Homo sapiens: one gene and its partner. The protein of the gene in region 2 interacts with the protein of the main gene of each other region in a pairwise test. Each region holds a gene or a part of one and is shown on either strand. Other genes may lie near its edges.

Region 1 (3,009 bases), on a different chromosome or scaffold from region 2:
CTCTCTCAAGCATAAAAACTTGCAGTAAACTTGGAAGTATGGAAAGTTCTATAACTGAACTTTCACTTCTCCCATTCCATACTATAACTACCAGTGACCTGGCCCCTACTTCAGCAATTTTTAGAACTGCTGAACAGAGCAAAAATATCCTTTACTAGCTGCAACATCCAAACCTCAAAAAAAGGAATTCCTTTGGATGATTCCATTCTTAAAAACTGAATGCACATCTATTTTTTTTTTAATTTTGTAAAAGGCTTTCTAAGGCTATAAGCAGTTAATCTGAACAAAACAAAACAAAACAAAAATCACATATAAAATTCACCCATGTACTTAACCCACCCAATTACTAGGTTAATTAAACATTTCCCATTTTCATATTTTGGTTTATCATGCATCTGATGACAGTGCTGCTTTCTTCTTTGTTTAGAGTCACTATTTTGAATGTGACTGTGATGAAGCATTTAAGCAAACGTGAAACCATTTTTGCAAAGCATTTATAGTCTTTTGACTTTTGACAGAGGCTATAAATAGAAGCAAAATAATTTCCTCATTTTTTTGTTACTGTGTCTCAGAAATGGCAATCCCTTTTGAATAACATGTTATACAGTATAGTATGCATAAATATTACACTACAATGCATTAAAATAATTTTATATATATCTATTATATATATATCTCCAGTATGTGTGAGTTTATCTGTATTGAGAGAGTTTGTGTTGTGCTGTCTATTGTTACTGTAAAGTTAAATTGGCCATTTCTGAGACAGCTTTGGTTTCAAAAAAAAAAAAAAAGAATGGTGCCCTTTGACTGATTAGTACTAGCAAATATGCAACAAAATGTGGCTCTGAAAACAATAACACTGAAGAAATAATACTCTAATTTGATGTACAGTCTATGGCACTTCATGAGAATCCTTAACAACATGGTACTTAAAGCCATGATGTGCTTTAAAATATACACAGTTGTGGTTTTGCTTGGCACATTCATCTCTGTCAGATCCCTCCCTCACCACGTCTTACAATCTATTACATTAAAAATATTACTCTTAAACAAAAATGACTGTGCATGCACGCTCTCATCTATAATGGCAATTTTAAATACAAGGTGCACCTTTGTTATTTGTAAACCTTGAAAGAAATAAACTTATTTTTAAAAAATTATATCTTGGTCTACAGACGTACCAATACATAATAGAATCATGGTTACACCATAGTCTGTCTTTTCAAGATGGCATGAATATATAGGAAACTAACTAGGTATGCATCTTTGAATGCATAACTCTGTGCTAGAAAAGAAAGACAATGTTGTTCTTTTAGACAGGAATATCACCTCAGCACAAATATCAATTAAATGTACAAAGTGTATAGGCAACAGTGTGCAGTGGATTTCCGGAAAATGTTGTCTTTTCTTCTGGTTAACATGCAATATGTGGATGTCTTGTGGCTGAGGAACTTTTGTGTGTGTTGCTTGACGATATATACAATATGGCTAATGACCTCGTCCTTTACTCTAACCAAGCACACTGTCCTTTCCTCTTTAGCATGATCTACAAGGGAAAAAGAGATAAGCTTTGTTAGAACAGGTAATATCTAAAAGCAGTTTCTAATATACATTTAATATGAAAATTTTCTTTTTGATTAACCAGTATATTTACATTATATCTTCATATAAAAACAAAAACCATTTTACAAGAGTAGACAGATCAAAATTTGTCTATCATCTCTACACGAATGAAATAACACGTACAATTTAATAAAACTGTAGAATGTGCTCCAAAATTTACCAATCCTAAACTAAAAGTATAAAATACATTTGCAGAATCAGGGGGCCTAATATACAGAGCTCTTTTTTAGCACAATTGTTGTAGGGCAAAATTTAAACTTCTTTTCTGAAGTTTAATAAGGTTTCAAGAGTAAAGGTCTGGTCTACAAAATTAAAATTCATGTAATATGTTCTATTAAACAAGATTTATTCTTTTTGGGTGCTTGATTAGCATAATGCATGTTTGAAAAAAAAAGAATGATACTTTAAGTGATGGCTTTGGGTAATTCAGTTTGTTGAACTTTTTTCACCTAAAACTAAGAAAATAAAAATCATTCTTTTTGAATTACAGAATTATTACTCATGAATTAAGCTGTAATAGACATTACAATGTACTTGTGGATTAACAGTTCCAGTTTTTACATGAAATTTGTTCTCAGCAGCGAATATTTACATATATTAAAAGTATGCTTCACAATACAACCTTGAAAATGAAAGAAATCATAATCTAGTGACTCAAAAACCAGTTTAAATGTTGCAACTCCTCATGAAGATGAGCAATCATTTGTTAAATGAACAGAACATTAAAAGCTTAGCTTCAATACAGACAAAACTACTGGTTTGCTAATTATTTTTAGAAATTTTTTTCAACCTGGATTATTGCTAAGAAACAGAATTTAGTTAAATATATACATACCAAACACACCTAATTGACTATAAGAGCTTGAAACAGATTTTTCTGGCATGTCAAAAAAACCTCTTCTTCTAAACCTACAACACTGCAAAGTAATGCCTCTTCTTCTACAAATGTGGCTATTGTTCAGAATCTGAACCTTTTTATCAGAACTGCTTTGAGAAAACTTATGAAATAGACAAAAATCAATTTTAATAATTCACGATTGCAGCATATCTTTGGCAGTACTTCTCCAGTTGAGCCTCTCATTTCTTTCTTAAATGGCTATTGAATTCTGCCTGTTCTCCTGCATGGGCTTTGACTTTGTCCAGCTTTGCTACAGATTAACATCACAAGGGTTTCTGAGTTGGTTCTCAGCCATCATCGTTTCCTGACTTGGCACACTGTCCTTCTTTTACAAGGCCTTTACACCTCCATTCTCTTTAGAACAACACCTTCATTGTCCACATTCATTTGTTTACGGATCCTGTTGGGAACAGCTGCTCCTTCATCTTTGCTCTAAGAGAAATTTCTTCAAACCTCTCTTATTTTACTATATTATCCTGAAATTCCTT
Region 2 (3,375 bases):
GAAATGGTTATGCCAGTGTGATTCCCTCAAATCCATCACGGCTGAACCCAGATGCAATTGTCTACAGCAAAGCTGAGCTGCAATCAGAGACCTTGAGCTTATCTGGCTGTCTGCTGCCAGCATATTGAACGCAAGGTCAGAGAGACAGAAGATGTCTTCACTAAGCAGTTAATATAATGACTTTAACACAGAAAGTTTCCAGTTACACAGTCAAGAGTGAGTTAGGCACTTTAAGCTACCCAGGACCTCAAATCAGAGCTCTTTCAAACTTGCTTTTGGGGGATAAATCAAGGTTAAGAAAAGTAATTAGGGGAAGACCTCTCATAAAGACCATGGCAGAGGCTCCCCATAACCTGGGCTTCCCCTACCCCCATCACAACCATCAAAGCATAATGTCCAACGTTGTATAAACGTTCACAAAAATGCAGAGATGATGTGTACTAGCTATCTAATACATTGCTGTGTAACAAATGACCCCAAAAATGTAGCAGCCTAAAGCAGTAAACATTTATTATCCACATTTCTATGGGTCAAGAATCCAGGAACAGCTTAGCTGAGTGGTTCTGGCTTGGGTCTCACGGGATTACAGTCAATGTGAGCTGGGTGCAGTCACTTGCAGCTGAGGCTCACCTCCGCGCTCACTTACGTGGCTGTCGGCAGGCCTCAGCTCCTTGCTGTCTGCTGGCCAGAAACATCCGTGTGTGGCCAGTGGGCCTCTCATGGGCTGTGTATCCTCACAACATGGCAGCCGGCTTGCCCAGGAAGAATGGTCCAAGAGAAAGCCCAAGACAGAAACCTAGTCTATTTTTTAATTGCTTCAACAATTTATTCATTCAAGAGATGGAACAAATAAATCCATTTCAGAGAAAATGGACTGAGGGTCAAAACTGGGTACAGGTCAAGGAAAAGGCAGATGTAGCTTACACTACTTTCCTATGTGTATAAAAGAAACTGATCTTTTATAACCTATTCTCAGAGGTGACATACCAACCCTTCATCTATACTCCACTGGCCACAACCAGTGGTATAACACAGGAGACTACACACAAGCCATATGAATACCAGGAGCGATCACTGTCTTGGAGGCTGGCTACTGACGGTCCTGATTATCTGGCTTAATTCCTGAGTTATATATAGGACTGAGTGTGAGTCTTTACCACACACATTCTCAGAGTTCTCAGAGCCTGGGCCTCACTCATTTCTTCTCATTTCCCTTTTAGGTCCCACGATGAAACTGAAACGGCTCACAGTTTTGGAGAAGTACAAAGGTATCATTGACTCCTTTTACCAAGAGCAAAAAATGTAATCAGGGCCTATGCCTGCAGTTTCTATAGAATAGAGGGCAGGCGTTCCGAGCCTCTTCCTGAGCCCCAGGTCTCTTCAGTCTGGGCACAGGCATTTCTGCCAAGTCTGTTAGATCTCCAGGTCAGGGCACAGCACTGGCTCTACATTTACCAGGTCTTACGCCAACAATAGCTGACAATTCCAAGAAGCTTCACGTGTGGGTAGTTTTAATTCAGTTTAAGTATTGCTTTTTGTTCAGGTGACAAATGAGATCAGCTCTCCTTCCAGAACGAAAGGGCTGATAATTTTTGGCCTTAGTTCCAGGTAGATTAAAAAGCTGCTAGCTCACATACAGGACAGCCAGCAGTAGGCTGTGGAGCGGGTAGGAGAGAGATGGCTGATACTGCTCACGTGCGCTGCAGGAAAAGCAATCAGTCACAACTCACCTAGCGACCTGACTTACTCTGGAATCTTGGCGGGCATCGCCGACCCTATTATTCCATTACCAGGCACTCCGCCACCCACATGCCAACTGACTTGATGCTTAATAAAACTGCTGCTGCCTGTTTGATTCTATTTAATGTATAATTTGAATATTAAACCTTTTAACAGAACTGTCAACAAGGACCTGATTTTTTTTGTCAATTGAGCAGGTGGGACCAGTGCAGAGAGTAGTGGGCATTTAACTCACAGGACTGTGCACAGCGGGCATGCGAGTGACCATTAGTGCCCTGGAATAAACAAAGGTGCAGGATGGGGTCAAGTGGCGCATTCTCATAAAAGCAGCCAGCTCTACGTTAGCCTGTCGCCACCAGACCACCCCACTTCCATTCTGAATACGGGAAGCAGCCATTCTCAGTAGCAAGCTGAGCCAAAATGACCGAAGGCATCTGAACAGGAAACAGGTAGAGAAAGCAAACATCTCAGTTTTGGAATTCTTTATTACTTTGAACCCAAGAGCCACTGATAACTGGCACAATCCAATGAAACAGAGGAAGCAGCAGCTTAAACAAAGGAAAATACATTTAAGATTATAAGTCTGGGGGGGCGGTTACAAGCTTAAAAAGTGACCCAGACAGGGATATCATTGCTAAAAAAAAAAAAATCCCCTTGTGACCTGGGTACATTTTGCAAAGCCACAGGTTTGCAATGTTACACAAGGGCCAAAGGAGGCCATGAGTTGTCTTTGGTTGTGGGGACAGAGGGTAACTGTTCATGAAAATAGTGAGTGTCTGAAGATTAAGAAAATCATGCTGCAGCAGAGGAGAAGGGAGAGGAAGACAGGAAGGGAAAGGAGATGCCTGAGGGTCAAAAGCTGAGCCCAAGCCTAAGCCCAAGCTCAAGCTCAAGCCCCAGCATGGCATAATTTTGTGAATTAACTCAGGCTGAGTTGCCTCCAGTCTTTGGAATGTCATCTTATACTGGTACTGCTGAGGCAGAGGGCAGTAATTGGTGCTTTGGGATAGGAGAAGGGGCAGTTGCTGAAATACAAAATTAATAGCATCCCAAGTTCCTCAATTGCAGCCAAAATACATGTGTTCGGGCCTTTCGGCAGTATCGCCCCCAGAACTACCTGCTGTAGTGTGGTCCATTCCCAGACAGCAACATGCAAGAATAAGTTTACAATACACTCAGCCCTTCTGGCTTCAGATCAGGGGCTCAGAGGCTGTGACAACTCATGATGCTGAAAATGTATCCAGTGAAAATGAAGTACTAGCTCTCTGCTTCATTAAAAGCTCTTGGAAAGAATATTAAATCTCAAGACAACAAAATAATTGAACACACAATACATTTGTGTCTTTGTATCCAATATATTACCTTTGTCTTATTAACAAAAATTATATCTCTCATTATATATTTCTTGGATCTGAAGTTTTTATTCACACTCAGTAATTTCTGTAAAGGACAAATCTGTCTCTATTTTCCATATCATTTAGAAATATACCACATTCACTCTTTTTGATGTGAACTTTCCCAGGAAAATTCTCTTGTGCCCATTTAGTTTTAGAAGAGTGTCATTTTGTGCTATTATGTCAATATCCTGTTTTATTTCCATTATGTTTTTCAAAAACCGAAGAAAATAAGGTTTTT

What was found.
Region 1: the proteins of IDH3A (region 2) and MBNL1 interact in a two-hybrid assay, tested with the Homo sapiens proteins (one large-scale study listed by BioGRID and IntAct).

The regions. Positions count from the first base shown.
Region 1 is NC_000003.12:152,460,922-152,463,930, reverse strand, and holds part of MBNL1 (muscleblind-like protein 1), read right to left. Parts: intron 1,547-3,009; 3' UTR 1-1,546. UniProt on the Homo sapiens protein: Mediates pre-mRNA alternative splicing regulation. Acts either as activator or repressor of splicing on specific pre-mRNA targets. Inhibits cardiac troponin-T (TNNT2) pre-mRNA exon inclusion but induces insulin receptor (IR) pre-mRNA exon inclusion in muscle.
Region 2 is NC_000015.10:78,169,375-78,172,749, reverse strand, and holds the end of IDH3A (isocitrate dehydrogenase [NAD] subunit alpha, mitochondrial precursor), read right to left. Parts: 3' UTR 1,307-3,375; coding exon of another isoform or gene 1,221-1,306; 3' UTR 805-1,220; downstream 1-804. Other genes in the region: long-chain-fatty-acid--CoA ligase ACSBG1, read left to right, coding at 1,221-1,268. UniProt on the Homo sapiens protein: Catalytic subunit of the enzyme which catalyzes the decarboxylation of isocitrate (ICT) into alpha-ketoglutarate.